Linked DNA regions of Homo sapiens: all the other regions are linked to region 1. The links come from fine-mapping of genetic effects on gene expression. A gene starts in region 1. Each other region holds a variant in brackets. All regions are shown on one strand. Distances are from middle to middle. Region 1 holds the start of FRY (FRY microtubule binding protein). Region 2 overlaps FRY (FRY microtubule binding protein). Region 3 has its middle 74 kb from the start of FRY-AS1. Region 4 overlaps FRY (FRY microtubule binding protein). Region 5 overlaps FRY (FRY microtubule binding protein). Region 6 overlaps FRY (FRY microtubule binding protein). Region 7 overlaps FRY (FRY microtubule binding protein).

Region 1 (4,383 bases):
TCCAACTTGCTCTCCCCAAATAGTTACCACTGGTGTTCAAAAGTAATATATCTTTTAAACCACATAAAGAGTAAAGAAAAAAAAGTATTTAGCTTTTTAAAAAAAAGTTCTATTCTAGAGTCACTAAGGATTCATAATAAGAATGAATGGGCCAGGCGCAGTGGCTCATGTCTGTACTTTGGGAGACCAAGGCAGGTGGATCACCTGAGGTCAGGAGTTCAAGATCACCCCAGCCAACACTGTGAAACCCTATTTCTACTAAAAATACAAAAATTAGCCGGGCATGGTGGCGCATGCCTGTCACCCCAGCTACTCAGAAGGCTGAGGCAGGAGAATCGCTTGAACCCGGGAGGCAGAGGTTGCAGTGAGCCAAGATTGCACCACTGCATTCCAGCCCAGGCGACAGAGTGAGATTGTCTCAAAAAAAAAAAAAAAAAAAAAATCAATGTAGCTAAAATTTAATGAAGTGTTAACTATGGGCAAGATACTATGCTGAGCCCCTTTCATACATAGTGTTATTTATTGTTTCCAACAACTATAGGAAGAAGGTACAACCCCATTTTACAGATGAGGAAACGAAGGCTTAGCAAAGTTAATAGCTTACTTTGGGGCTCAAAGCTAGTAAGGGCTGGTGCCAGGAGCGAACATGGGGCCCTGCCTTGAGAGCCCATGCCATCGTTAATCGCAGGGCACTGTGCAGCCTACCTGTTCATTCACTGCCATCTGAGTCTTGGCAAGCATCAGATGGGCGTAGGTATGAAATTTATTTTCAGATATAATAATTGTTTCAAGGTAAAACCTTTGGGTCTTATTTTACCTAGAATCCATACATTCAAAGTACAAGTGATAAAATCAGTTCAGCAACTCTAGTATGCACATGAATTAAAAAGAAGTCAATCTGGTGAGAGATTTCATCAGAATAAAGTGTATAAGTGGAGTTGGAAATCTGAGTGATTGAGTGCTTGCCATTTGGGTAAGTGTAATGAGTTTGAAAAACTAATTGTATTGATGAAGTATCTTAGGGCCTTTCAGAACATAGTTCTAGAAGTTTTATTTAGTGTTGAATTTTAAAAATTCTTTGTCCTAACAATAAAAGTACATTGTAGTCTTTCCCTTCCATTTTTAAAATGAACTGTTAATCTAGGAAGTCCTGTTTGTGTGTTGATTTGGGGAGTTAGCCCAACATTTGCTATGTTAAATACTTATTAACATGGTTTATTACTTTTTTCTGTTTTTTAGACAACATTAATCATGAATGTACTGGGACTTGGGAAGGATCCTGTGGTTTATGAGATAGTTGGCCAAATCCCACCTCTTCCAACATAACCTGTCATTATTAAAATATAATACTCTTATTTAATCCCCTGGTCAAGCTAAATGATAATGTGAAACAAAGCTAACCAAAATCAGGACACCTGATATCAAGAATTCATGAAATCAAGAGCCATTGTAGAGCAAGGAATCTAATGCTTTTGCTTCTTATCCTTTTCATACAAATAAAATAAGCTTCACTGGGCTTAGTGAGTCTTAGAAATGAGAGGTTTGAGAATAAGATCCATTGTGGAGTGTGTGACATTACAAAAACAAGCCAACTAAGCAGTGTGTACTGTCCCCTTAGAGTGCACACGTTCGGGCTCCGATGCCCCTTGAAAAGACTGCATTTCTGGGAGGGAAAAGTAAAAATGCAGATACCACCATGCGTGTGGAAGGCAGGGAAGAAAAAGCCCAGACAAGCGTCCTCTTGTTGAGTCTCTTTACTGCAACGAGGCTGACGGATGGGGTTTTTCAAAACGTCGCTGCAACCAGATGCAAGGCTGCAGCTTTGCTTACCGCAGCGTGCTGCAGTTGTGTTTATTTCAGGGACAGACACAAGGGGAAGCAGCAGCCAGAGCACACCCGGGCCGCTCACGGGAAGCCTTGCTGAAGAGAGAGGATCCGCAGAAGCTGGGAAATTCCTCCCGCAGCCTAGGCGGAGACTGAGCCGCGGCTCAGGTTGAGACAGTGGGCAGGGGCAGGGGGCGGCGCTCCCGGCCCATCCCTTAGCCCCGCGGCGGCCGTGTGGGCCGGAGGCTGCCTGCACCGCGTCAGGGAGGCCGGCCTAGAAACCCTCCCTCCCAGAAGAAAGCCGATCCCAGTTCAGGTGGGGTCTTCCTCGGTTGCGTACCTGGCTGGAGCCGAGCTGGTGGGCGGCCGGCAGCCGGCGTTTCTGGTGATGACAGCCCCGAAATGAAAGCAGCGCGGCCGCCGCCTCCGAGGGCTGCAGGGAGATCAGCGTCCAGCAAATAAGAAGCAAGTCCTGGACCCGGAGGAGGAGGAGCGGCCGAGCATCTCTCTCTGCTCCGCCGTGTCCTTTAGATGAGCACTCCCGGCCGGAGCCGGAGGTGGATCCGCAGAGCTGCCTCTGGGCGCCTGACCCCGCGCTGACATCACAACCTGTGACAGGCGCATCACGCCCGGTACCTGCTCCCGGCCGCTGCCCGTCCTCCCAGCCTCTTTGTATGCCGCAGACATGGCCAGCCAGCAGGATTCGGGCTTCTTTGAGATCAGTATCAAATATTTACTGAAATCCTGGAGTAATAGTGAGTAATAGAAAATAACCTTTTTGTTTGTTTGTTTGCTGGATGTTGCATAAGGCTGGAGACAGAAAATCTCAACTGGACACATATGTTTGTGAGCCGCGGAAGTTTTTCTTTTTTTCTTTTCTTTTCTTTTCTCTTTCTTTCTTTCTTTCTTTCTTTTTCTTTCTTTCTTTCTTTCTTTTTTTGCTCCCATCTGCTGTGAAAATCAAAATGTCAGAGACTGAACTAGCTTTCCTTAAGTGCAAAGGCTGCAATGGAATTACAGTAGATTGTGTTTGATTAAATTTTCAAGTGAGGCAGCCCTTCAGACTCTGGGGGAGCTCAGGATCAGGCATTCCTGGCTGCATTTCCTGCCTTGATGTTTATTTGATTTGTTCAGGCTTTCTCTAAATATTTTGTGAAGTGTGATTTAATCAAAGGGGTGTGGCAGGGTTTCAGAGTACTTTGTAATTGTTTTTTTAGGGTATTGTCTGAAGAAAGAAAAGTATTTAATAGTCCAAAACCTAGGACATCCTTTTTGTATATAGAGGCATCTGCAGATTTATTTCATCTCTCCCTCTTCCATGTGGATGATGTTCTGAATGCCATTTAATATTTGAATTTTTAAAAATCCTGATGTTTGCTATAGTCCAAATATTGTGCTTTTTTGAAACATAAACAAGTGAGGTTCTGACCCTAATTATTTATTAGGATAGCAGAATATGATGGCTCCTGAAGTTCCATTTCTGACCTACATAAGGATTTTAGCAATACGCTATTTCAAAAAGACAACCTCTAAGCTGCCGTGGATCTGGAATCAAATTAAAATGAGGCCTTCAGGTGATCAATGATGCCTTGTATTTTCCGAACTGTTTAAAAAGAAAGTCTTCTCTATTTCACTAACAGCCTTTGTACTTGCTTTGGATAAAAGATCAGCAGGTATTACTGATGCTTTATTGTTTTAAATAAAAAAATTTTTTCCCCGTGAAAATTTTAATATTGTATTATGTGCATACTGATTAACCTACCTGTGCTCAAAGAGCTAGTGATTAATTGTCTCCTACACAAATGACCTGTGGCCAAGATTGTTCTTATATAAACAAAACCTGGGCAGGAGAACCTGTGCTGCAATTGCTTTGAGGAAAAGAGCTAAAGTACCTTCAGCCTTAAGGTATTCAGGGATGTGCATCTCTAAATGATATCCATAGAAACCATTTTTTCCAGGTCATTTTGCACCACTGTATACACTATGGGGCTTGTCTGAAGCTGTTTTTCTACAAGTGGGAAGCCATTTGGGAGTAATACTGTTGCCCAAACAGCATTCTTTACTTGTCATAGCTATAAATCATTTAACTTGGACTCATTATTTTTATAATACTTTACACTCAAGGATGAATCTTCCTTTGTCTATCTGCTCTTTGATTAATGAAAAGAATTTGACATACAGTGTTCTTTATGGAGCAGTTTTCCAATAACTGAAAAAACTCACTTTTGAGTTGACATCAGTACGTGGTTTTTAAACATATTTGATTATTCCAAGACCAGACTGTTTTCTTCCATCAATTTTTGTCATTGCATCATTAAATAGAAAATTATGTTGTGACAATACTGAGGCCAATGGGATTTCTTTTAAAAATTTCTCTCCCCTTGTCTATTTTCAAATCACTCTAGATAAAGTATATATTCTCTCCACCCTTCCTAAACTCCTCTCCCCACATACATACTTCAGGAAATGATTCAAAATGACTGTTCATTTCTACTTTGAGAATATCTGTGATACAATTTTGAATTCTTCCAATTCATTCAGCAAATATTTATTGAATAC
Region 2 (4,383 bases), 170 kb after region 1:
CCAGCTAATGCTTTTCATACTACTTTTTTACTTTCCTACATCTTTATAGATCCTTGAAGCAAAGCTTTTTGTATACTCAAAGAAAGTCGCTGAGCAAAGACCGGGAAGTATTCTCTATGGAACACACGGCCCGCTGCCACCCCTCTACAGCGTGTCACTTGCCCTCTTGTCATGTGAGCTGGCCAGGATGTACCCTGAGCTCACACTCCCCCTCTTCTCAGGTACCAGGCAATAGTCAATAATGACATATGTGATCATTTCTAATAATGACGTATGTGATCATTTCTAATAATGACATGTGATCATTTCTTTGCTCTAAGTAATTTTTCTTTTTAAATTCTAGTTTAATTTTAGAGTTATGACCAGGCACGATGCCACGCATTCCTGTAATCCCAGCACTTTGGGAGGCCAAGGCAGGCAGATCACTTGAATCAGGAGTTTGAGACCAGCCTGGCCAACATGGTGAAACCCTGTCACTACTAAAAATACAAAAATTAGCCAGGTCTGGTGGTGTGTGCCTGTAATCCCAGCTACTTAGGAGGCTAGGCAGGAGAATCGCTTGAACCCAGGAGGCAGAGTTTGCAGTGAGCCGAGATTGCGCCACCGTACCCCAACCTGGGCAACAGAGTGAGACAGTCTCAAAAAAAAAAAAAAATCTTAGAGTGATAATTAGTGATGCTAAGTTTGTAGGTCAGAATTACTGTGGGCTAGATCCAGTTACATATGAAAGTAAATTCTATAATTGTTAAATGAAAAAAATTTCTTTATCTAAAGCAGTGTAGGCATAAACATACATATGACAAATGCAAGGTGCTTAGATTAATAATACTAACTTCTGCATACATTATATATATAAATTTCCCAAAGAAACTAATATCCCACAAAAGCTAAATATGAACAGTGTAATTTATAACACATATAATTGCTGCAAGTTGTTTGGTGGTTGTGATAGTGGTGGTGTTTTGTAGCTTGTATTTTGCTACATATGTAAGTTGTTGAAAGTTTGAATTTTTGCATATTCTTTACAATCTTCATAAATAGTTTTTGTGAATTTGGCTTTGCATAGTGGATGGACTGCCACATGGAGGATAAACTGCAGTTAGGTAATGCAGAATTGCTAAAGAATTGCATTTGTCAGGCCGGGCGTGGTGGCTCACACCCGTAATCCCAACACTGGAGACCGAGGAGGGCTAATCACCTGAGGTCAGGAGTTTGAGACCAGCCTGGCTAACATGGTGAAACCCCATCTCTACAAAAAAGACAAAAATTAGCTGGGCATGGTGGCCCACGCCTCTAGTCCCAGCTACTCAGGAGGCTGAGGTAGGAGAATCACTTGAACCCGGGAGGCAGCGATTGCAGTGAGCCGAGATCATGCCATTCCACTCCAGCCTAGGCAACAGAGTGAGACTCTGTCTCAAAAAAAAAATGCATTTGTCACCTAACTTCTTGCCTAAGCTTACGTAGCACTTTGCCAAGAGACAGACTTTGGCCTCTTGAATTCATCCTGTTTTTCCATCTCTATCACCACCTCACCACTGCTTTGTCCAGATCTTCCTCAGTCCTTCCCTGCCTCTGCATTACCTAACTACAGTTTATCTTCCATGTGGCAGTCCATCCACTATGCAAAGCCAAATATGTCCAGCACTTCTTAACTCAAACTTCTCTGCCCAGTTGTCCTAAAAATAGCTGATAACAGCCTACATTTAGTGAGTGGATAGTAGGTACCAGCCTCCATGCTAGGTACTTTATGTGCATTGCATTTATCACTTAATATTTATAAACCCTGGTATAGTACAGTGGTTAGAACAGAGGCTTTGGAGTCAGGCAACCTTTCACTAGTTGTTTGACTGTGGGCAAGTCACAGAACCTCTAAATTACATTCCTTATCTGTAATAGTAATGACTACCCCATAGGATGTGAAGATTAAAGTGATCTAATGAAAACCAAGCAGCTGGCCCAGTCCTGGCATGGAATTATCACAACTACCACCACCACCATCATCATTGTTTTACAGATGAGATGAGAAACTAAGGTTTAGAGATGTTAAATAATTTGCTCGAGACCATATAGCTAGGAAGCAACCAAGTCAGAATTAAATCTAGATCTGTCTTCCTCCAAAGCCATTGCTATAAAATTAGAACTCAGCCAAGGGGCAGGG[G/A]AAAAAAAGCTCCTTTTCTAAACTTGCTTTCTACCTTTTCATTCAAGAATCCTCTACTCCAGTCCTACTGAATCTTTGACCAACATTCCAGGTCCTCTTGTAAATCTTTGCTTCTGTACATGCTGTTGAATGGCCCTCACCCCTTCTTCCTAACTTCAACTTTCCAGAAGATCTAACTTAACATCCACCTCAACTGTGCAGACCTCTCCATATACCTGAGGCAGAGTTAGTCACTTCTTTGTGTAATACCAGAAACAGTGGAGAGACCCAATAAAAGCCTTTTTAGTAAATTAATTCTCTTCTTGCAAAACTAAAATTTATTTTTATGCACTTCACCCAAGATTTGTTTGCTGCCTACATGCTAGGCACTGTGCTTGGGTTTCAGAAATACAGAGGGAAATAAAAGTCTCTCCCATCAAACGTTCATAGTCTAGCAGAAAAGATAGATATGCAATCAAGCCAAGCACAGTGGCTTATGCCTGTATCCCAGCACCCTGGGAGGCTGAGGCAGGTGGACCACTTGAGGCCAGGAGTTCGAGACCAGCCTGGCCAACATGGCGAAACCCTGTCTCTACTAAAAATACAAAAATTAGCTGGGCATGGTGGCACATGCCTGTAGTCCCAGCTACTCAGGAGGCTGAGGCACAAAAATTACTTGAACCCAAGAAGCAGAGGTTGCAGTTAGCCGAGATTGTGCTACTGCACTCCAGCCTGAGCGACAGAGCGAGACTCTGTCTCAAAAAAAAAAAAAAAAAAAAAGGTGTGCGATCAAATGATTTTGATACAGTATAGCAAATGCAATTTTTTAAAAAAGAAAAATGCTCAATGTATTAGACAGTAGCTGAAGGACTAATCAATTATTGGGCCAGGAATATCAGAAAAGAATTCCCAGAGAGAAGTTGATGTCTAAGCTGTAGTTTGAAAGGAGTAGAAATTTGCATAGCAGACAAGTAGTTGATAGACATTACAGAGCAAGAGACCATTGCATATGCATCAGCTTAGAGTTATAAACTAGCATGATGTAATTGGGGGATTATATAGAGGTCAGTTTAGGTAACATAACGTGCAGGAACAGGAAAAGCTAGAGATGGTCGTGGGCAGATGCAGAGGCCAAAATCATTATCTTGGAAGGCCTTGTGTACACTACAAGGTTTGTAGGCCAGCAATCTTCCATATGTGCTTTTTGAATCCCCCTTCAGAGCTCTGTAAACAGAGAGAGCATCCAAGCAAGCTGCTGGGGTTTTGAAAGCCACTGATGAGTTGCAAACGAGAAGAGGGAGTATCAAGATTAGAATGCATTTTTAAAAGCCTGGTTGCAGTGTGGAGGGTGGATTAGTGAACATCCAGTCTGGAGAGAGGAGGATAGTTAAGAAACAATGGCAATAGTCCAAGGAGGAAATAATAAATGATAAGGGCCTGAACAAAGACAGCCCAATGAGACTGGAGGGGAGAAACCAGAGCGAAAAGCTGCCAAGCAGAGGCACAGAAGAGAATGCCTACTGTGATATCAGGGAGGTCAGTGATGATAACCCTCCTAGAAACCCAATACAGGGAGAGGGGAAGGTTTGGTGCAAGGCAGAGATCAGGAGCCCAGCCCAGGATGTTGAGTGTATGCCTCTGCTGGACTTCCTCCTGTATGGATGAGCCTGAACTGAGGGAGGTCAGTGCTAGCAACTCACAGAAGGATGGAAGGGATTAGAGCCACGGGCATGGATGAGATCAGGAATGGAGAGAGCACAGAGTGGAAGAAAGGGCCTGGACACCCCCACTTTTGCAGACTGGTCCGAGGAAGAGCAGAAGGGTGAGAAGGAATGGAGGGAGAACACTCAGGAGAAGGGTTTCATGGAAACATAAAGGAAAAAGAGATTTAGAAGGAGAGAGTGAGCAGTGCACAGCCTCCGATGCAGTAGAGAGATCCCAGAAGAGAAGACCTGAACATGACTCTCTTGAGTTTCGAGATTCATTGGTAACTGTCAGTAGTTTCTGCAGGGAGGTAGTGGCAGAAGCCAGATCACAGTGGCCTGGCTGAGAAAGAATGTAGAAAGAGAGGCTGGCCCTCCAGTGGGGTGCAGAGTCAGAGGAGGAGTTTTAAGGATGAGCGATATTGGAGCATGTTTATTAGCTGAGAGGGAGATGCTAGTAAAGTGGGAGTGGTTCACAGTTCAGGAGAGAAGAGAGAAACAGTCCAGCAAGTTTAACCAGATCAGAGGCTCCTATGAGTTGCA
Region 3 (4,383 bases), 74 kb before region 1:
TTCCTATCTAATTTTTTGCTAGGAGAGCAGAATGCTTTAATTTGGGTTTTCCTGCTTCATTGACATCAGTATTTAAGCTTCCCTATTGCACCAGCTAATGGCAATACTGACACTATGTCATCTGGTAGAGAATCCCTAATTGGCAACGATGTATTTTCCTCCAGGAAAGTACCAGGGGCCTTAGGTGTCCTCCACATCAGGGTTTCTTAGTTGGGGGTTTGTATGCTTTTTGTAATTTATGTCTGTTCTCCACACTCTAAAAAACAGCTAAGTGGCAAACGGTCATAAGTCAAATATCCCTCCTCAAGTCCCAACTCAGGAACAGTTTCTGGTTTTTTGAGAGTACATTGGAGCCCCTGCATAACAAAAGGAATATTAACTTACCAATTTAGGGCTGTTGTTTTCAAACGATTGTGCAAATCTGAATTTCTGGAGGAGGTTTTCCAAAATCCACAGGCACTGGCCAAGAGATGTGATTTACCAAGTCTACACTGGGCCAGGCATCTAACTGCAGTGTGAACATTTTCCCAGGTTCATCTGATGTTGTCCCATCCCCTGGTCAAGAACTACTGACTTAAAGAAAGTGGAAAAGATCTTCAAAGATCAAAGTTTATTTGTAAACTATTCTAAGTTTCACGTGTAAGAAGCAGGAGGCAGCTATGCCTGGCAGACCTCTGTTGCTTCCCCTTGCAATCCAGTCCCCTTCCACGTACCCACCCAACCACTACCACCCTCGAAGTTTAGTGTATTCTCTGGCAAGAGAGGAACCTGTAATTTGAGTTTCATCATATGCAAAGTGCCTCTGTGTCCCCACTCATAACTGTAAAAACCAGAACTGCAGAGTGCAGAGGTCCAAACACACCCATATTACGGTCTTTGTTCTAAATCCTGCTCACACCATAGGGTAAAATATTAGGACTCGCTCTGTGCCTCTCAACCATCTTTTTTTTTTCCTTTTATTTTTAGTTGACATATAATAATTGTACATATTTATGGGATAGAGAGTAATATTTCCATACATATATACAATGAGTACTGATCAAATCAGGGTAGTTAGCATATCCATCACCTCAAACATTTATCATTTCTCTGTGTTGCAAACATTTAGAATTCTCTCTTCTAGCTTTTTTTTTTTTTTTTTTTTTTGAGATGGAGTTTCATTCTTATCACTCAGGCTGGAGTGCAATGACGCGATCTGGGCTTACTGCAACCTCCGCCTTCTGGGTTCAAGTGATTCTCCTGCCTCTGCCTCCCAAGTAGCTGGGATTACAGGTGCACGCCACCACACCCAGGTAATTTTTGTATTTTTGGTAGAGATGGGGTTTCACCATATTGGTCAGGCTGGTCTCGAACTCCTGACCTCAGGTGATCCACCCGCCTTGGCCTCCCAAAGTGCTGGGATTACAGGCCTGAGCCACCACACCCAGCTTTGGCTTTATGAGAATGTACAATAAGTTATAATTAACCACATTCACCCTACAGTGCTACAGAACACCAGAACTCATTTCTCCTATCTAGCTGTAATTTTATATCTGTAGACCAACCTGTCCCCATCCTTCCCTCCCCCTTGCCCTTCCCAACCTCTGATACCCCCAATCCTACTTTCTGCTTTCATTAGCTCAAATTTTGGGGGGGCTCCCACAGGTGAGTGAGAACATGCAACAATGAATTTTTTAAAATGGTAACAGTGCCTGTTAGAGGCAGCTGATTAGAGTAAGTTGGATGAATGAGAAACATTTCAAGGTTTTTAAAAATAAAAGCTCTCAACAATACAGATGATATTATAAAATATAGAAATGTTTAATGAAGAAGAGTTAATGAATATCATCGGTGATACTGAGTGCTGCACAGAAACTTCATTACTCAGAATTAGGGTAAACTATAGCTACATATTTTCTTTTGTTACTGAATCACATCCATATGAAACAAATAGCAATCTGGAAACTTCTCAAAAGAAATATTCTCGAAATGTGATTATTTATAATAAGGATGCCATGAATCACTATATAGTTATTTAAACAAAAGGCAAGGCAGTTTTGGAAAACTATAAACATTGCAAAGTTATGGCCTTGTATTTTTTCTTATTTTCTGCTAAATTAGAAAGAAATTTGCTGTTTCAAATATACTCAAGCTGTTCAGTTCTTCAACAAAAAGTAGGTGACTGAAAACTGTATGTTTAACTATGCTTAAGTTAATATTTATAGTAATGATAGAAGCCATTTTATTGGCAATATATCACTTCCTGATTTCCACACCAGGCATTCCCACATGCACAAACAGGTGTGTGGGAGGAAGGGAAATGGGCAA[G/A]AATGATTTCCTTCAAGAGGCTACTGAGAATGAAAACTCAAAATCTGCACAAATAGGGGTGGTGGAAGGAGAGAAAGAAAACTCCATGCCAGAAATAACATGCTTAGCAGAGAGAGAGAGAGAAGAAGAAGAAGAAGGAGGAGGAGGAGGAGGAGAAGAGGGGGGAAGGGGGAAGGGGAAGGGGAAGGGAGAGAGAGAGAAGGAAGGAAGGAGAAAGAAAAGAAAGAGAAAGAAAAGAAAAGAAGGAAGAAGAGGAAGGAGGAGAAAAAAACAGCAGAAATAAAGTAATGTGGCACCTATATCCACAGACATATCTTCCAGCAGGTAAAGTGTAAAGTAGTTTTTATTTTGAAAAGTTGATTGATACACACAGGGCTAGATAACTGATAAACTGCAGATAAGAAACTGGGTTTGGTGCTTGCCTGTGGGAAATGAGGATGTTCCTTAAATGTCACCTAGATGGTTAAAAGGAAGGGAAGTATGAGTGAGTCACTGCCGATTTGATGAGTAAGGGTTCCTTCTTTAAAAGGTTCTTTGGGATGGGCACGGTGGCTCACACATGTAATCCCAGCACTTTGGGAGGCCAAGGTAGGCTGATCACCTGAGGTCAGGAGTTCAAGACCAGCCTGGCAAACATGGCAAAACCTTGTCCCTACTAAAAATACAAAAATTAGCTGGGCATGGAGGCAGGCACCTGTAATCCCCAGCCACTTGAGAGGCAGAGGCAGGAGAATTGCTTGAACTCGCGAGGCAGAGGTTGCAGTGAGCCAAGACTGTGCCACTGCACTCCAGCCTGGGTGACAGAGCAAGACTTCATTTCAAAAAATAAATGAATAAAGTAAAATAAAATAAAATGTTCTTTGAAAGTTCCCAAACATTGAAAATAATGATGAATTAACAGAAGATTGAATGAAATGAGATAGTAAGAATCGAAGGTTTCTGTTTCATTCTCCCCACAAAACAACAACAGACTCTTTTATCTCTAACCAACTGCTGCCTTTGGAGGTTTTATAGGGATGTTGGCTGGGGTAGAAGTGGAGAACGAGACAGGGAGAGAGAGATTGAGGCTTTTAAGAGTTGCTGGCTACTCCTTCTGTTGCACTTCTCCTTGAAAGGCCTCCCTAGGGCAGTCTACCTGTTATTGCTCTAAAATTAAGTTAGGATCTAGCTCTGTTGTAGTTGGGCAGCAGAGGTAGACATTATGCCAATATATGCCATTTTGATGTTCAGATAGAAGTCCAGCATTGTGAGTTACTTTCATTATGTGTGAAAATACGGTGTGTAGAAGTAGGTAAAAATTTGCTCAAAAATTCACTACATTCTTTCAGGAGCTATAGCAAAGCAGCAATTTATGATTTTGTTTCTTTTAAATGTGGAAGTTTGGGATTCACAAATGCTATGAAATAGATAAATACATAAAAGTTGTACACAAAATGCACATTAACCAGCTGACTAGAATTTTGCCCCAACCCCGAACTGGAATGTTTATGAACCCCTAATCTCTTGTACTCTGCAATTCTAACCTCAGTGTGCCACATTGCTGCATGTTACTCATTGCTGAATGGAGTGGCACATAACATCTATTTAAATGCTGCATAATAGAACTATGGTATCGTTTAGGACTTTATATAAAAGTTATAACATTTGAAATGCCATGAATTTCATCCCAGTGGCAACATTTCTGTAGTCAGCTTTTAAGGAATATGATTAGATGAGATGTATACTCCACTTTTAAAATATTTTAATTATCAGAATTATAGAATTACATGTTTTTTTTTTAAGTCACATAGATTCTTCAAGCTTGGATCTTACCAAGCCTGGACATCAATGAGCTATTTCAGTTTGTTGTTGTTGTTGTTTTAATCAATGATAGGGCATCTTGGAAAGCCTATGGCATTTCCTCAAAAGTTTCCTTCTTATTTTCCCTCCTAATTATTAATCTTACATAAGATGTGCCAAGATTGATTCTTGGGGATTTACTATTTTTTGTTTATAGATCAAGCTTCAAAAAGTGCATGGTGGTTATGCTGTTGAAGAACTTAGACAAGAAAATAACTCACTTGGCAGTGAGCACAG
Region 4 (4,383 bases), 180 kb after region 1:
AGAATGTGCTCTTTGCTCCAGCTAAAATAGAAATGTCCAGTTAGTCACATGAATCTCCTGTGAGCTCATCCAGATATTACATAAAAGTTCCCTTCTGCCCCCTAGACACAGGCTATGTGTGCTAGTGATGCCTCTGTCATCTCCTTACTCTGAGCCTTGGGACGCAGAAACCTATTGATATAGCAGGTGGATATTTTTCTAGCAGTTACTGAAAGCTGCCTTCTATAAACATTGGACCTACTATGTAAGAGACACTAAGTAAAGTGTTGTATTATTACTAATAAGAATGTTTCATGTTTACATCTTGATGCTCTTGAAACAGAATAAGAAAGCAGAGTATGCAGGTTTTTCTCTTCAAATTCAAGTGGTAGAAGAGAGAAGTAAGCATGGAGAAATCCTTCTGAAATGTCTGATATTTACAGTTGGTATTTAAAAGTGATAGGATCAACAGAATGACAGCATTTTTAAAACCCAAACTCAATTGGCATTTCTGTGCTGGTTGTTTTTGTGACAGGTTTATGTCTTCCTGCTGCCTTGAGTCCACATAAGCCTCACTGCAGCTTGCAGGGCTCAGGTTGGACTATGAGGCCTGCAATAATGTGGAGCTTTAATCCAGAGTTATTTTTAAAATTTAAAACCATAAAAACAGCTAAAACTCATTTGTTTCTTGGGGAGAAGAGAATAGCAGGGGACTGGATTCCTTTTTAAACAAAAATAACTAGCAGTTTTTCCCCAGGGTTTGTATAAATAAAATTATTTCTGAAGATGAGAACTTTGATGGCAAGTTTTCAGTTTAGATAGAATTCACGTACCTCAAAAGTAACTTTTAAAAACTTAGCCATTAGAAAAGGTAAGGGCTTTAAGAACACACTGTTATCAGACGTGCCGATGAAGAGAGGTGAATTTTAATCCAAGTCCTTGGTCCATCCTAGGATAGCACAAAGATTAGCTATCACGGTGACAGCTCCTGCATGATGACAACTTATCTAAATGAGAGGTTTACTGGCCTAGTGTTCCTGTGGACTAGGCTCTGTGAAACATCCCTTGTTTTCTTTTTTCCTTCTCAGATTAAAAAAGTGGCAATATACTTGTGCCGTAACAACACCATTCAAACCATGGAAGAGCTTCTCTTTGAGCTGCAGCAGACAGAGCCCGTGAACCCCATCGTCCAGCATTGTGACAACCCGCCCTTCTACCGCTTCACGGCCAGTAGCAAGGCTTCCGCAGCAGCCTCAGGTAAGAAGAGCAACCGGGCAGACACCTGGTCACAGATCCCTGGGGTTTCCTTCATGTAGATTCCTGAAAGGATATGAGAATGTGTTTGTTACTTTTTTCTTATTCCTGTGTGTGCATTCAGTTAAGAGATGGCTTAAGAATAACTGAGACATGGGCTGGGCGTGGTGACTCACGCCTGTAATCCCAGCACTTTGGGAGGCTGAGGCTGAAGTCAGGAGTTCAAGACCAGCCTGGCCAACGTGACAAAACCCCGTCTCTACTAAAAATACAAAAACTTAGCCGGATGTGGTGGCACGCGCCAGTACTCCCAGCTCCTCAGGAGGCTGCAGGAGGAGAATCACTTGAACCCACGAGGCAGAGGTGGCAGTGAGCCAAGATTGCACCACTATACTCCAGCTTGGGCGACAGAGCAAGACTGTATCTCAAAAAAAAGAGAATAACTGAGTTTCTTAGGGATCATAGGGTTAATGAAATGATCTTGTAAAGATGACTGAGAATCTGTGGCTCAAGCATCCTCCATCACAGAACTTTGTATTTCAGCCGATCCCAGCCAGGACATTGCAGTCACTCAGGAATCTCATTTCTGGATCCCCCTTCTTGTATCTGGACCCTCCCTTGGCTATATTCCTTCAGCGTTGATTAAAATTCCCCCCAAAAGTATTATCACTTTTGGTTAATTGGTGTCTCAGCAACCTTTCATGAAATATATGCCATCCTCCTCAAATTCCTTGAAGTCTGCCTCCCTTCTGCTGACCTCATGCAGTAACTGCCTTCCAATTCCTCTCCTCCCTGAGTCTACTGTCTCCTCTGTTCGCCCTACACCCTGCCACCAGAGCAGTGTTCTTACAGGGAAGCAGTAGCACAGCAATCAGAAGTGCTAGGTGCTTGGCCTTACTTCACTAGCATTAGTTTAGTAACTCCTGGACCCAGAAATACTAAAGCAGCCAACAGCAGGGCCAGCCACTATAAATAAGCTCATTGCCTAAGTGGCCAGGAAGAAGAGGTTTCAAGAATGTAGGCTTGCTTTACGAGAGTTAAGGAATTTGGTTTGACCATAACAGATGTCTACGATTCTCTCATTTCAGTGGTGTGGGCTTGGAAGATTGTTTAGAATGTCTGAGATTGTGCAGAAGATGTAAAAAATCTTCCAAACATAAGAATTTACAGGAAATCTTTCCCTGGAATTACTTGAGACTTGAGCTTGACCCCTCAGCTTGCATCTTTTTATAAGTGTTTTTCTTCCA[T/A]TCCCATCTACAGGAACCACCTCTAGCAGCAATACAGTGGTTGCTGGCCAGGAAAATTTCCCAGATGCTGAGGAGAACAAGATATTGAAAGAATCTGATGAAAGGTTGGTACACAAATTTGACTTAATATCCAGTGTAATGTTCTGCAATAATCTATACATAGACATCAATACAGGTTTGTGGAGTTTCATAAATTTTACACGTACATAAAAATCCTTCTTTGTTTTTAGAAACTCAGACTTACTTTCCAACTCTACTCAGTATATCCCTAAAGATAACAGTTATTTCTGTGCAAAGTCAGAGAAGAGAAAGATTAAGAAGGGTGTTGTTCTGGTGGTGGTGGAATTTCGCATACCTCAGGGCTTAGTAAAAACCATGAGTTGTTCTGCTAATGGACACAGACCATCTGGAATTAGAATTGCCATGTGAAATTTTCGAATCTGATAGTTGAATAATTTCTTAGGGATAGAGTAGTCATCTTGAGATGAGTTCTATGAAACATGATTATTATTATTTTACTTTTGCTTTGTGCTGTCTTGGTTAACCAAAACACTATCTTTTCCTGCTAAAAAAGTCTCCGTTCCCTCCACATTAGCTCTTTAATAATAATATTTCCCCTATATCTCAGCCTTCTTATTGCCTTGCCTATGAACTACTCATCAGTAGTCAAATCAGAGTCACTCTTTCCTGCAGTTGATTGTGAAGAGCAGGGAGACAAACCAGGAGAGAAAAACAAAACTCAATTTAAAAAAAATGAAAATTAGGATGATCCTCACGGTGCTTCAGCTGAGCATTTTATAGTGAAAGGTAATGAGGGAGCCCTTTTACTTAAGAAATTAGTAAAAAGGATGAGATGCTCATGAATTCATATTAAAGGTAATTTAGGGGATCCAGTGGTGAAAATAACTCACTTAGCCCAAAATGCCCCAGTAAGCCCACAGTGCTTCCTGAGCATCCTGAGGATTTCATCATGTGTATTGGGGCACAGTAGGGGCTGGCGTGGAGATGACCTGGCACAGGGCTGCCTGCCCTTGGGGCTCTGAAGGCTCCTTCCCTAATTCAGGCACCAGCCAGATTCCTCACTGCATCACTGGGCAGCTGTGTTACCTTCAGGCAGATGCTCATCCATACGGGCTTCCCTTCAGACTAAAAGCCCAAACCCAGCAGATCACGAATTATAGACCTTGTCCTTTGAAGTTCTCTAATAAAGCCTTTTATTTCTTTCTCAGGAATGAATAAAGGTTTTTATATTCCACATATTAGTGAAGGTACAAGATTATTAATTAGCATGTTACTTTTTAAAATCTATATTTGCTATTAATATTACCTTCTTTGGAAAACTACCTCATGATAAAAGTCACAGTATTTCTCTAAAGATATTTTTACTTTCTCACTAGACTATAACATTCTTGATCATTTATTGTTTTGTCTGAGTTTCCTGTCTGAATTTTATTTGAGGTAGAAAGATGATAGATCTCCATGTATTACCATCTCATTACAAAGGCCTGTTTAGGGCCAGAGTTCTGAGTGTCCTGCCTAGAGGTTTTAGTGGTGCCTTTGAACTTAAGAAGCCAGTAATCTCTCTAATATCAAGATCACAGAACATCTTCAAGAGAGATTTTCTTGTTTAGCTCTTACTCCTGCTCTGTCACCATATCTCTGCTGGTCATTGGAAAGCCTGATGCAATTATCTACCCATATATATCACACATATTCATACATGTCAGATTCTTTTATACTGATATTTATCTACCTATAACATTGATTGATCATATTCACATATATGTGCAAACATATGTCTATGAATATGCTCTCCCAATGGACACCACTATTCCGTTGATCCCATATAGCACCTACACTATTTGTCTACTGTATTCTTTTTTTTCTATGAAAGTAGGCTGTG
Region 5 (4,383 bases), 87 kb after region 1:
AGAACCCCTGGTTTTCACATGCACTCTATATGTTAGTATGTTTCCTTCTGGTCCTGTTTTCTGCATATGTATACTTACATAGTATCTCTAACAAATTGGAATCATACCAATTAAATGATTCTTCATTTTTTTCATTTACCATATCATGAACATTTTCATGTCATATTTTTATATTTATATTAAAATATGATTTTAATGGTTTCAAAAATAGTCCACACCAAATTCCACATCTTATTAAGCATTTACATGTAGTTGGACATTTATGTTGTTTCCATCCTTTTGCTATAATAAATAATGCTGTCCTGCACCTTCTTACTTATCTTTAATTATGGACTTGAGATAAATTCTAAGAGTGGCCTTCTTGGGAATGATTTTTATTAGGTTCTTGATATGTATTTCCAGAGATGTTATGCCTGTTTTTTTCTATCAGCGGTATATGAATATATCCACTTTATCACTGCTCATCAACTCTGGGCGTTATAATTTGCTTATACAGTTTGTTGATTAGCTAGTTAAAACCCATTTCATTGTAGTTTTACATATTCTGGAGACAAGGCCTTAGTCAGACATGTGTTTCGCAAATATTTTCTCCCACTCTGTGGTTTGTCCCTTATCACGATCTTAACTGAATTCTTCTAAAAGCAGAAGTTTTTGGTTTTGAAGAGTTTCATTATATGAAATTTTATCATAGACTTTGCTTATGGGGCCGTACCTAAGAAATCCTTGCCTAATACAAAGTCACAAAGGTTTTATCCTATGTTTTCTTGGAGTTTTATATTTTTAGGTTTTATACTTAAATTTATGAGGCATTTTGTGGAAACTTTTGCATAGAGTAATGAGATATGGATTGAAGTGTTTTTTTATAGTAATCAGTTAAAAAATCAGGACTCTTTCCAGATAAGGAAATTAGAATAACAATTCTACCAAAGGCACATTTGTTCTTTAAAGAAAAAGGGAGAAGTTTGCCTTTAATGTAACAGGGGGTAAATTATTGCTGCCCATTTATATTTTGAGTCTAATTTGGGGCATACTTCAAATTAATGAATGAATAATTATTGTCCAAAACCATACATTATTATTACCACTTAGGTTATTTGGTGATGGGGGCAGATTTGTTTATATCATGTAAATTATTAATGTAACTGTATTCATATATTTATACAACAAACATTTTTAGGACGGAAGAAGCATTCATCTACTTTAGGCAGATGAACGTGGGAACATAATATCTTTGCAGTTCCATGAATAACCTGTATGCAATTAACATCTGATTTCTAGAATGAAAGGGAGTCAAAGTAATTAACTTTCTTGAACTACAAAATTATTCTTATATGGGGAACATTTGTCACCATTAAGAGACAGGCTCTTGGGAATGTACTAATAAAGATTATGAAAGAAAGGACTGTGATACGGAAGAAAATATTTTAGTGAGTAGTGCTTGGGGTTACTTGTGAAATAAAAAGTTTCTCAGTAATTGGCAGTGCTACCAGTGTTCTAATCACCTGCATTTTCCTCCATAGGTCATCAGCTCAATGAGCTCCCTTTCTGAGTACTGCCTGCCTTCCATTCTACGTACATTATTTGACTGGTATAAAAGGCAAAATGGCATTGAGGATGAATCACATGAATACAGACCAAGAACAAGCAATAAATCAAAAAGGTACATTTCTTTTGTGTAAGGATCATGGTTTTATTTTGTTTTGTTTTCAGGAAACATAAATCAAAATTAGAGTTACAAGGCAATTGGGTCTTCCTGACTCTTCACAAGGATGCCTAGCAGGTGCTGCAGGGGCCCTGTGTCTGTAGCAGGTAACCCATTTGGAGCACCGAGTCACTGCCAGCCGTCACGGGTTGAAAATTCATACACAGCTTTATTTCAACTTTGGTGGAGACAGGTGTGAAGGGCCACAGGTCACTTTCTTGCCAGCTTCTTTCCTCTGCCCTCTCCCACTGAGTCTACACCCAAAGCAGAATGCTGACTTCAGGCCTTGCGTGACATGCCAAGATATTTTAGTCCTCGTTCCAGTAACCTTGAGTGCTCAGTGTACTGTAGTGGGAAGGACGCTGGACTGGACGTTAGTGGTAGTCCTGGCGCTGCCACTATTTAGCCATGTGACTTTGGGCAGCTCCCCGCCTCTCTGTACCTCAGCCTCCTTGTGAGCAAAACAAGGAAGTTAGGTGACACCATCTCCAACTCCTCCTTCCAGCTGAGTATTTTGTTTATTT[A/C]TTCTCTGTTCCCTTCTTCCTGTGGGTTTGAAAAATGGAACTTGCTGCTCCAGGAGCATATCAGCATCTGTAAAACTTAAGATTCTCATTAATGTGTGTCCTCCCCAAATTTTAGGTAAGCACATATAATTTCATATGTTTAGTCAACCTATAGCAAGGCAGTGAATATAAGAAAGATTAATACACTTACCTTTTTTAAAAAAAATAAAAGATTATTTTAAAAAGTAGTTAGATTTCTCCACATGAATGGATTATTCCAATTAAAAAAATACTTTTAAAGTCTGTAAACTGAAATTAATCAACCAGAAAATCAGACATTAACTACTTTTTGTGAATGATTTATTTCTCTCATTTTTCTTGAAAGTCCTAATACTGTTTCAAAAGACTTCTTTTGAAATAGAAGAATTGTAACATTACCATGTTACACTTCAACAAAATTTGTAATCTGCTTTTATAATGTGCTTGAATTTATGCAAGATTTAATCATATAATTTTGTTTGGGAGAGAGATTAATAACTTTTTCGTATTGAATTTTTTTTAGTGAAGAAGGAAATTTTTAGAATTTTTAGATATAACTCAGATGCCATAAAATTCACCCTTTTAAAGTATATAATTCAATGTTTTTAGTATATTTACAGGGTTGTACAACCATTACCACTCTAATTTCAGAACATTTTTATCACCCCCAAATCCTGTACCCATTAGCAGCCTCTCCTCATGAATATTTTTTTAATTTATCAGGTTTTAAAAATAGAATTTAAATTGTTTATCTGAAAAATGGTTCAGACCATGTGATTAAGAAATTAAAAGGATCATTTTATTATTTTTTCCATATTACATGTTGTCTTATGAACAGATATTAAACCTTCCCAGGGGCAGGGAGTGGGACAGTTTTTAGTGAGTTGAATTGAGTTTTAGTTTTGTTCCTCTGTTTTGTCAGAATTTAGTTGCTGAAATTAGATTTTTCATGAATTGATTTCTTTATGGATTAAAAATTATAGTTTTTAAAATTGTGTTACTGATTATTTTCAGGAGATCAGAGTAAGTACTGAGATCAGATAAAGAATCAGGACAGTAAAATTTGACTTAGTAGCATTTTAGTTAATGCTTGAATTTTTAAAATAAGAGAGAAAATGTGCTTAGAAAACAGCCAAATGAATGAAGCTCTCTAGGGTATGGTGTAGCTAAATGTGAGTTTCTGCTACTAGGAAAAAAAGGTTGGGGGGACTTTAAGGAGGAGCATAAACTACTGAAAATAGATGTCAGGGATGCACATTGGGTTGTGATTTCTGAGATTAGTACAGTATCAGCATTTGGACTGCCAAATAAATCTGTCAAATGTCTCTGGCTCCTGGCAGTTAGACTGCAAACCAGCAATAAAGTTGAATTCATTATTAGAAATGTATATGTCTTACTTTGATTTGAAAACATAATTTGGCTTATTAAATAAAATAGAATCAAAGGTCTACATTTTTTTTTCTGCCAAGAACTGCTACTTTCTCAGGTTCCTCTGGCCACTTGTAAAGACCCTTAGCATCCAGCACAAAAATACTCTCTCTACTGCTGCTGGCCATCTCTGGGAGTTCTCCTTCCTTTTGGTCTTTCCAACTTCCTGTCTCCTTATTCTATAATATAATGGATATAAAGCCTGATTTCTGAGTGCCCTCCTTTTTAATGCAGCTGCATAGATTTTCCTTTCCCCCAGCTCGCAGTGCCGCTTACTAGTTCCAGTGGGTCTTGAAGGACTTTAGATAGATGGTTTTGTTCACAGCTCTTTCTCCTGGCAGGGCTGTTCATAAATGATCCTGAAAGAATGAGTTCCTACTCTGTTGATACATTTACTCCTTGAAAGATAAACATGCAAGTTCCTTCTTAACGCGTTCTGTCATCCACCAGCCTTAATTTGACTTGCTCAAAGTTACAGAGCACTCCAGAAGGTCTTCTTTATATCTTAAATATCACATTATTTTCTTCTTATTCCCTTTTGACTAAAGAGAAAAACATTCCAGATTTAAAATAGTCTTGATTTATTTTGAAAAGATCTTCCTGGCAAGTCTAAATCCTGTCATCCCTCCTCATTGGTTTTATTTAATATATACTATTGAGCATTTATGTGTTTGGGAAATTATGCTAAATACTTTACATGTTTTATCTTCT
Region 6 (4,383 bases), 93 kb after region 1:
GAACAAGACAAGGATACCTACTGTCAGCACTCTTCTTTAACATAGTACTAGAAGGCCTAGCCAAAGCAATCAGACAAGAGAAAGAAATAAAGGGCATCCATATAAGTAAAGAAGAAGTCAAACTGTCACTGTTTGCTGACAATATGATCATTTCCCTTGAAAACCCTAAGGACTCCTCCAGAAAGCTCCTAGGACTGATAAAAGAATTCAGCAAAGTTTCCAGATACAAGATTAATGTACACAAATCAGTAGCTCTTCTATATACTAACAACGACTAAGCGGAGAATCAAATCAATAACTCAACCCCTTTTACAATAGCTGCAAAAAATAAAATAAAATACTTAGGAATATACCTAACCAAGGAGTCGAAAGACCTCTACAAGGAAAACTACAAAACACTGCTGAAAGAAATCACAGACAACACAAACAAATGGAAACATATCCCATGCTCAAGGATAGGTAGAATCAATATTGTGAAAATGACCACACTGCCAAAAGCAATCTACTAATTCAATGCAATCCCCATCAAAATACCACCGTCATTCTTCACAGAATTAGGAAAAGCAATTCTAAAATTCATATGGAACCAAAAAAGAGCCCACATAGCCAAAGCATGACTAAGCAAAAAGAACAAATCTGGAGGCATCACACTACCTGATTTCAAATTATACTATAAGGCCATAGTCACCACAACCACGTGCTTCTAACTTTTAAATGAGCACAAATGACTGCTTTGCTTCTCCTACCTCTTCTTCCTTCTGCCTTTTACTCTTCTCTCTCACCACCCCTTCACTTCTTCATTCCTCCTTTCACTAAGTCTCAAGTGGCAAAAAATGTAAGAGAAAAGGGACAGGGAAAGAAAAGAAAAGTGGTAATGCCGATCCTCTTCACCCCTGCAGTCCTGCTCAAATTGGTGATCATATTATTTCCTTCTTGTTTCCTTACATTGTTTAGCTCCTTTCACGAGATCTTTCAATGTCCACCTCTGGTATGGTAGCCTGTCTCAAGTTGTTATCACATTTTACAGGTGGTAGAATTGCAGAGTTGAAAGCTACCTTAGAAAAGACCACAAGGTGAGGTGATAGACGCACAAATAACTACTCAAGTTAACATCATTGAAAATTTTAAATTTGAAGTCAAATATTCCGACTTCAAATCCAATGTTTGTCCACTGCAGCACACAGAGAATTAGCATGTTTTGTTGTTGTTGTTGTTGTTGTTGTTTTGAGATGGAGTCTCGCTCTGCCTCCCAGGCTGGAGTGCAGTGGCATGATCTCAGCTTACTGCAACCTCCGTCCGCCTCCCGGGTTCAGACGATTCTCCTGCTTCAGCCTCTCAAGTAGCTGGGATTACAGGCATGGGCTACCATGCCACCTGGCTAATTTTTGTATTTTTAGCAGGGACGGGGTTTCACCATGTGGGCCAAGCTGTTCTCAAACTCCTGACCTCAGGTAATCTGCCCGCCTCGGCCTCCCAAAGTGCTGGGATTACAGGCATGAGCCACTCCGCCCGGCCAACGTTAGCATGTATCTACCAGTGCAATTATATAATTTTAAAAATGGGTTTTGCAGTCTATTAGGGAGGAGTCCTAGATTTTTTATGAATTGTATTACTCTGAGAATACCTTCAGTGTGCTTTAATGTAAATATTTTAAATTTTACAGCGATGAACAACAGCGAGATTATTTAATGGAAAGACGGGACCTCGCCATTGATTTTATTTTTTCTTTAGTATTAATAGAAGTTTTGAAACAGGTAGGTGATTAATTTATTGTTACTTTTAGATAATATTTATTGATCTAAAAACTACTTAGGTTGTAAAAGTCTAAGTTTTTAAAATTATTTCTGAATTCCAAATACTGGGTTATATGACTTATGTTTATTGATTGCTATTGATTGTCATATATAGTTATTGGAAGTACTGTACCGATTTGTTCTTTAATATTCCCTTCTGAGTTAAGAACCACCTTTTTTTTTCAGATTCCACTTCATCCTGTAATAGACAGTTTAATACATGATGTTATTAACTTGGCTTTCAAGCACTTTAAATACAAAGAAGGGTAAGATGATTTCTCACCTTAGAATGTTGAAGTTGGTGTTTAAAACTAAATCAGTGGTTTGCTTTTTTCCGATGACCAGGGATCCCTAACTTGTCTAATTATACCCTACTTAGGTACCTTGGTCCCAACACTGGCAATATGCATATTGTGGCAGACCTGTATGCAGAAGTCATTGGAGTGTTGGCACAAGCCAAGTAAGTGAATGCCAGAACCCTTTACCATGAGAACGTGCGTGCTTTCACTGTCCTTCCAGCCCTAATTTAGGGAAGTTGGGGTTGAGCTTACAAGGAACTAGGTAGGGCTCTTTGCCATGTGTGCCCCATCTCTGAAACTGAATAGAAAGCTCTTCCAAGACAGGTATCAATTATCTTTTTTACTTGGCACTTGGGCCAGATCCTACCTAGAGTCCATGGGTTTCATACTGTTGCATCAAAGAAATGGGGTGACCAGATTACATTTCTCTCTGCCTAAATATTCCAAGGAAGTTTATCACTTTTGAAAGTTCTGTTTTCTCTAGCCCATGAGTGGGTGGTTACAATATATCAT[C/G]TATCAGTGGGAAAATTCCATTCTAGAATGTCCCCTTTACTATAGACCTTACTTAATTCAGCTGAGCTAAAAATGTCCCAGACTCTGTCATGGAAACAAGTCAGGGGGGAAATTCTCATTGCTAAATTTATCTGGCCCCATAGCACTACTTAGCAGGCAAGAACAAAATTGCGTTAGACTATTAGCAACAATATACCTCTTCCAAAAGTGATGTCACACCCTACTTACCCAGCTTCATTTTGTCCAACCCTGAGGCAAATCAGGCAAGATCCCGAATGCCTAAGTTAGGCAAAATGAACCAGAGACATAATGTGAATTCATGCCAGGAGGTCAGCTTAAAGCAACAGTGATGCTCCAATCCTTGTGAAATGCAATCCTTCCTCAGAAAGAGATTTTTATCTTCAAGGGATTGAATTTCGTAACGTAGTAGCATGGAAATTACACAATTTATCAAAAAAACAAAAATTTTAAAAAGCACTTAGCAATCTTACCTGGCCAAAACATAGACCAGAATGCAGGAAATAGAACCCCTTAACTCCTTGGCATAATTTATTTAATCTAATCCAGTTTATCTACTCATCCTGACTATATTTTTTTTAATATATAACACATCAGTGTTCGAAGGAGGAACGGGAACTTCCAGAGGATGATAAACTGATGCCATTGAGAAATAAAGCTCAACCGCTGGTGGCAACAGAAAGGAAAGAAACTGGCCAAAGCATACATAAGAATTAAACAATAGAGTGATCTGGGCCATTTTGCATGAGGCTATATTGTAGTTTTATAGCCTATTAAAATAATTGTGGTTCATGAATCATTAAGAAAAAAGTGTAATGCATTTTGGAGATATTTCCATTGCAATTGAGTAATGAAAGCATTAGCATTTTAAATGGACAAGCTGTAGTTATCCAGCAAATCGTGTATCTACCTCATTTCTAGAAAAGATTGGGAAAAATGAGGTATTAACATGTATACTTGCTGATTTGTCAAACCCTGAAAATCTCAACATAAACTTTCAGCTGTCATTTGGAAACTTCAGTATCCAAAAATGACTTTGTGTTTTCCTTAGTTTTTGTGAATTATGCATAACAATAATATTGGTTACTGTCAAATGACCTTCCTTAGCTCTGTGATTCTGAGTTGGTTGTGAATAAGTTGAGAAACACTGTCATAACTGAGCAATATTCTAAGCTTGTAGGAATTTCCATTTTAGGTAAGATTTATGGTCCACCAAGTCAGTGTTTGCTTGCCAATGGTGGCTTTTTTTATTTTCGTGATGTCAGTATTTGTCCCTATTCTGCGGTAGTAGGGTGTAAGAAATGCCTCCATTTGGACAGTGCTCCAGTACTTTCCAGTCTCTAGTGAACCGTTTGGCCAGTCTGCTCTTGCAGTAAACACAGACTCCAATAGCCCTTGATGTGTTCTCAACTAGTCTATATGTAGTTAACCTTGATGGATAGATGGTATAAACTTAAACTAGTATCATACCATGAATTATGACATTACTTCTTTCTCATAAGTACACCAGGACCATTACTTTATTGTTACCTTAGAAAAGTACTGTTTCCTTCATTCCCAGGGTGGGAGAAAGAATGTTTGCTTATCTGGTATAGTGTGATTATCTTTTTTAAAAAAGTTGAGTAATGTAATAATTCTAATTTTAGATTATATGTCTCATTCCCAATGATAATGCTTATTAAATATTTTCCTGATTATGACTTTAGCTATTAGTACTTACTTTGGAATTTGAGTTTTAGCAGAATCACTATTTTTAGTCT
Region 7 (4,383 bases), 77 kb after region 1:
TCTCAAAGTCCAGTATGGCTGCTAGAGCTTGGCCATTGCATCTGTATTCCAGGCAGCCAGAAGGAGAAATGGAAAAAGAATTATAGAAAAACAAAAAACAAAACTTTCCAACATAGCATATACCATTTCTACTTATATCCAATTAGCCAGATGTCAATCACATGGCCACATCTAGCTATAAGAAAGGTGGAGAAATTTTACTTTGGGTGACTATGTGTCCGTCTAAAAATGGGGTATTTTATACCTAAGGAAGAAGAAAAGAAAAAGAAGAAAACCTGTTATTGGGTAACAGCTAGATGTATCCACTAGATATTTAGCCAAAATGCCCAAAGTAGAACTATTTACAGTTCTGTACCTCTTTCTTTCCCACTGTGGGTTTCTCCTCAAATTTGCCAGTTTTCCAGTTTGAACTTAAATATACATATATATTTAGAAGCTAAAACTTCATGTTTTCTTTTATATTTTATATTTTTACACTCATAATTTTATTGGTTTAGTATTTCTAAATTTAACCTAATTACACTCCAACTCTGTAAGAATAAACCTGGAAGGGCCTGGCGTAATGGCTCACGCCTATAATCCCAACACTTTGGGAGGCCGAGGCGGGTGGATCACCCGAGCTCAAGAGTTGGAGACCAGCCTGGCCAACATGGCAAAACCCCATCTCTACTAAAAATACAAAAATTAGCCAGACGTGGTGGCACGTGCCTGTAATCCCAGCTACTTGGGAGGCTGAGGCAGGAGAATCGCTTGAACCTGGGAGGCAGAGGTTGCAGTGAGCTGAGATTGCACCACTGCACTCCAGAGTGGGACTCTGTCTCAAAAATAAAAAATAAAAATAAAGAAGAAACCTGGAAAAAAGATTTTATAAATGACAAGATGTCTAAACAGGATTTTTAAAGCTCAGTGTTAGTAGGAGAAATATACTAGTGAATGCTTTACACATTGGAGAACTAGGAATTTGTGCCCTCATTTCCAGAATTTCACTTTTCACAAACTTCAGGAATATGAGTTTTTTTCCATTGTTATACAGCACCTACCTCCTGGCAACCATGTGCCAAGCATTATGCCAACTCATGGAAACAAACAGGAAGGAAGCATAGTGCCTGCCCTAGAGGCCCCACCACTGGAGTCTCGTTGGAGAGAAAAATAGAACTACAATCAGATAAATGATAACCGCAGACTAGTAAGTAAGCTAAAGCGGGTGTGAGCCTCAGGAGAGCAAACTTCGCCCTGCCCTGAGGAGCCAGGGAGGCCTTCATGGAGCAGGCAGCAGAGGTTCAGAGCAGTATGGGCTATCCCTTCTGGTCCATGCTAGTGATAAAGTCATACCAGTAACAAGAATCAATAAAGGCAGAAGAGAATTCCAACAGCATTTGAAGATGTATATACTATCACTATTTATTTTAAATTACTATAGTAACTGTCAGGGCTTAGCGAGTAAAAGGAACTAAAAATCGTTCTGGTAATAAAGTAATTTAGCAAACACTTACTGTGCATGTGTATATGTATATACATACACACAAAGTTTTATATGAGACAAAGAGATGTAAGAATGTGGTCCCCAGGCATGTGTTTCACATTCCAGGAGCTCCAGATCTGGAAGAGGGTCAGGCAGTGCACAACCAGCCTTGACATAGGCCTGCATGTGTAAGAAGTGCCACATGAATGGTGTGGACAGTAAATATGCTGAGACTTCAGGGACAGAAGACACATGCCTCAGGACCAGTTGCCTAGCTAGAAAATGCCTTCTAGATGAGAACAAGATTTATCAGGTGCCTAAAGCAGTAGAATCGATAGGATTTGCTGAGTGTTGATGATGAGGAAGATAGGAAATTTCAGAAGAAAGGAACATTTTATGCAAAGGTCCTGAACAGAAAAATGACACTATCAGTTATCTTTGAGGAACCTAGAAATTGATCAATTTAGTTGATGCAGAAGGCATGTATTGTTAAAGGATAATCTTCAAAAACAGGCAAAAATATGACTCACATAGAGATATAAAATGAACCTGTATTAAACATTTTATTTAACTTGTTATTAGTGCAGGATGTTACAACCAGTTAAATTCCAAAAAACAGACACATTTATAAATCATCATTGAAATGAATGCAATCAGAGGCAAAACTGGCTTCTTTCATGTGGGGGAGGGAAGTCCACTGAACCTTCACTGGACAGTTTTTCATGTCTATAGACAAGAATTATTTTGCATTGCTATCAGGTATCTACCATTTATACAATTTTAAAATAGCTCAAAGGCATTGACAGGTATAGAGCCCCCATAGACTCAGAATCAGATAACCCCTTGAGAGGTATGCTTTAGTTTTCCATTGTAAACAAACATTTCCTACAGTCTGGCAGAAGTTAAAAAAGAGATCAGGCGGCAGAGGTAGAAAGGGATCAGATTGTGGAAGATCTTAATGCCAGTGGGATGGGGCTGTATGCATACCAGTATCAAGTTGTCAACTTGATGTTAGCCTTAAGGAGACAATGGTCATGAAGGCAGTAATGAAGAGACCTAAGGCATTTGGGGAACATGGCATTGATAAAGATTCTAAGCTAAAGGGGCCTAA[A/T]CTAAAATGGAGGCAGTGAGACTATAAGAAAGGACGATTATAAGCAAAATTATATAAAAAGGATAAACATTGGTTGAGAAAAGGAGAAACAAAGGATAACTGTAGTTTTAAGCATGATTTGGAGCGATTTCCATTCAATTAAACAAACAATGAGTGCCTGACACATACTAGGATCTGTGCAAGGTGCTGAAGTCACAAAAATGAATAAGACAGAGCCCTGTCCTCCAGGAATTCTCAATCCCAGAAGGAAGACAGTTATCTACACAAATAAAGTGGCAATGTAAACGCTATAATAGAGGTTGTATCAAGTGCTCTAGGAACTCAGATAAAGGAGGAGTTAATGATGCTAGGAAGGTACACAAGTGTGTGCTACAAGAAGCAACCAAGGAGCAGTGACATTTAAAATAAGCCTTTTATCCAGATGAACAAATTGGGCCAGGGTATGCCAGGCAGCAGGGGTCTCACAGACAAAGGAGAAGTTGAAGGTGAAAAGAGCAGAGTGCTGGGAATGAGGGTAGAAAGGTGGACTGAGCCCATTGCAGTGGGTAGTAGGAGCCGTGCTGAGGGGTCTAGATTATTTTCTATGGGCTATGAGCTCTTCAAGCAGAGGAAACTATACTTGGGGGCAGAAGACAAGAGAAGGCTGTAAATCCGTTATGCATACTGAGTTTTCAGGGAAGGTGAAATATCTCAAGAAAAATAACGGGTTCAGTTTATTATGTGGTCACTCAACAAACACTGATAGAGACTAGAGCACATAAGTAAAGAACGTCATAAAGAGTTTAGTATCAGGAGGTGGGATCTACAAAAGAATGGCTAGAAAAAGGGTAGTTTGGAAAGTGGGAGAAGTCTAGAGATAGTGCTCTCTAGGGCAGGGATGGCCCATCACAGCAGCTGATGCAGGGACATCACGGAAGATGCAGACCAGGAAGAACTGGAGGTTAGCAGCTAGGAGCTCACTGGAAGTGGCTTTGAGGAAGGCTTTTGCTGCAATGGCTATTCATGGATGTGTAGAGTGCATTTTCATAGTCGATGGACTAATGTTAAATACTTTGAAGCTTACTTTCACAAGCTAAGTTATAGTGGCTGATTATGATTGGTAGCACCTAAATAACAAAGCAGCGTGCTAGAACATAATCATGGAACCAGTGATGAGTTCCTTATCTGGCATCTGTGGAGAGCATCTATGAATGAAAGGCATGTGAGCTCACCATTTTACCTTCAAGTGGTTTTCTTCGTTGTACAGACATCTTTTTACAATAAAAGTCCACAGCATTTTATTTCAGATTCTCCAAAGAAACAATAGCCAACAACAAAGAACTACTCATCCAACCGTGATGAGCGTGGGCCTGGGTGGGTGATGATCAAATTAGCCCATTTTTAAAAGTGAAAAAGCAACACTCCAAAATAACTCTTACTTGAGGGAGTTTGTGACCCTTACCTGTTGGAGATTGTATTAATGACAGCCACTAGATACAGTTACTCTCAGAAATGAAAATTCTAGCTGATGAATGAAGTCAGAAACGAATATTCTTTCACATACCTTCCAGCTACATGCAAATGCTTGCTTGTTGATTTGCTCTGCCCTTGGCTTTTAGACCTTTGCTTATGTAGTATTTAATGATGATATAAACATACAATGTGTTAAATAATACCAAAAATTGTATGCTGTACAATGTTTTTCTGTTTGAAGTATTATTTCAACTTTTAAAACAGTCTCATACAGTAAGTGGAAGTTATTTTCTCTTTGCATAATAAAGTCTGATTACTCTGCAAAGGAGCATGTGTCAGAGCAATCAGAATTCAGATC

What was found. PIP is the estimated chance that this variant, and not a neighbour inherited with it, causes the effect. A credible set is the group of variants that fine-mapping cannot tell apart.
Region 2: its variant is the best candidate, but not a certain one, in a credible set for the expression of FRY in whole blood (INTERVAL, PIP 0.83).
Region 3: its variant is the best candidate, but not a certain one, in a credible set for the expression of FRY in sun-exposed skin (GTEx, PIP 0.86).
Region 4: its variant is the best candidate, but not a certain one, in a credible set for the expression of FRY in whole blood (INTERVAL, PIP 0.52).
Region 5: its variant is the best candidate, but not a certain one, in a credible set for the expression of FRY in whole blood (TOPMed, PIP 0.82).
Region 6: its variant is the best candidate, but not a certain one, in a credible set for the expression of FRY in monocytes after Pam3CSK4 (Quach 2016, PIP 0.55).
Region 7: its variant is the best candidate, but not a certain one, in a credible set for the expression of FRY in whole blood (INTERVAL, PIP 0.60).

What each region holds. Positions count from the first base shown.
Region 1 is chr13:32,029,287-32,033,669 of GRCh38, forward strand. FRY (FRY microtubule binding protein) reads left to right here and starts at 2,488. Exons shown (of 61, transcript NM_023037.3): 1 at 2,488-2,579. The coding sequence starts at 2,510. It overlaps FRY-AS1 (FRY antisense RNA 1), which reads right to left and starts at 2,353. Exons shown (of 4, transcript NR_103839.1): 1 at 2,165-2,353.
Region 2 is chr13:32,202,307-32,206,689 of GRCh38, forward strand. FRY (FRY microtubule binding protein) reads left to right here. Exons shown (of 61, transcript NM_023037.3): 31 at 50-221. Among named protein-coding and RNA genes, the nearest start is that of ZAR1L, 110 kb to the right of the region's middle. RefSeq lists a silencer at 3,426-3,720. The variant G/A (reference allele first, on the strand shown) is at 2,159.
Region 3 is chr13:31,955,180-31,959,562 of GRCh38, forward strand. It overlaps the pseudogene EEF1DP3. Among named protein-coding and RNA genes, the nearest start is that of FRY-AS1, 74 kb to the right of the region's middle. The variant G/A (reference allele first, on the strand shown) is at 2,308.
Region 4 is chr13:32,209,799-32,214,181 of GRCh38, forward strand. It overlaps FRY (FRY microtubule binding protein), which reads left to right. Exons shown (of 61, transcript NM_023037.3): 34 at 1,068-1,236; 35 at 2,494-2,584. Among named protein-coding and RNA genes, the nearest start is that of ZAR1L, 100 kb to the right of the region's middle. RefSeq lists an enhancer at 342-1,541. The variant T/A (reference allele first, on the strand shown) is at 2,481.
Region 5 is chr13:32,115,814-32,120,196 of GRCh38, forward strand. It overlaps FRY (FRY microtubule binding protein), which reads left to right. Exons shown (of 61, transcript NM_023037.3): 4 at 1,521-1,660. Among named protein-coding and RNA genes, the nearest start is that of FRY, 86 kb to the left of the region's middle. The variant A/C (reference allele first, on the strand shown) is at 2,227.
Region 6 is chr13:32,122,623-32,127,005 of GRCh38, forward strand. It overlaps FRY (FRY microtubule binding protein), which reads left to right. Exons shown (of 61, transcript NM_023037.3): 5 at 1,664-1,754; 6 at 1,980-2,059; 7 at 2,173-2,253. Among named protein-coding and RNA genes, the nearest start is that of FRY, 93 kb to the left of the region's middle. The variant C/G (reference allele first, on the strand shown) is at 2,606.
Region 7 is chr13:32,106,524-32,110,906 of GRCh38, forward strand. All of the region lies in intron 3 of FRY (FRY microtubule binding protein), which reads left to right. Among named protein-coding and RNA genes, the nearest start is that of FRY, 77 kb to the left of the region's middle. The variant A/T (reference allele first, on the strand shown) is at 2,574.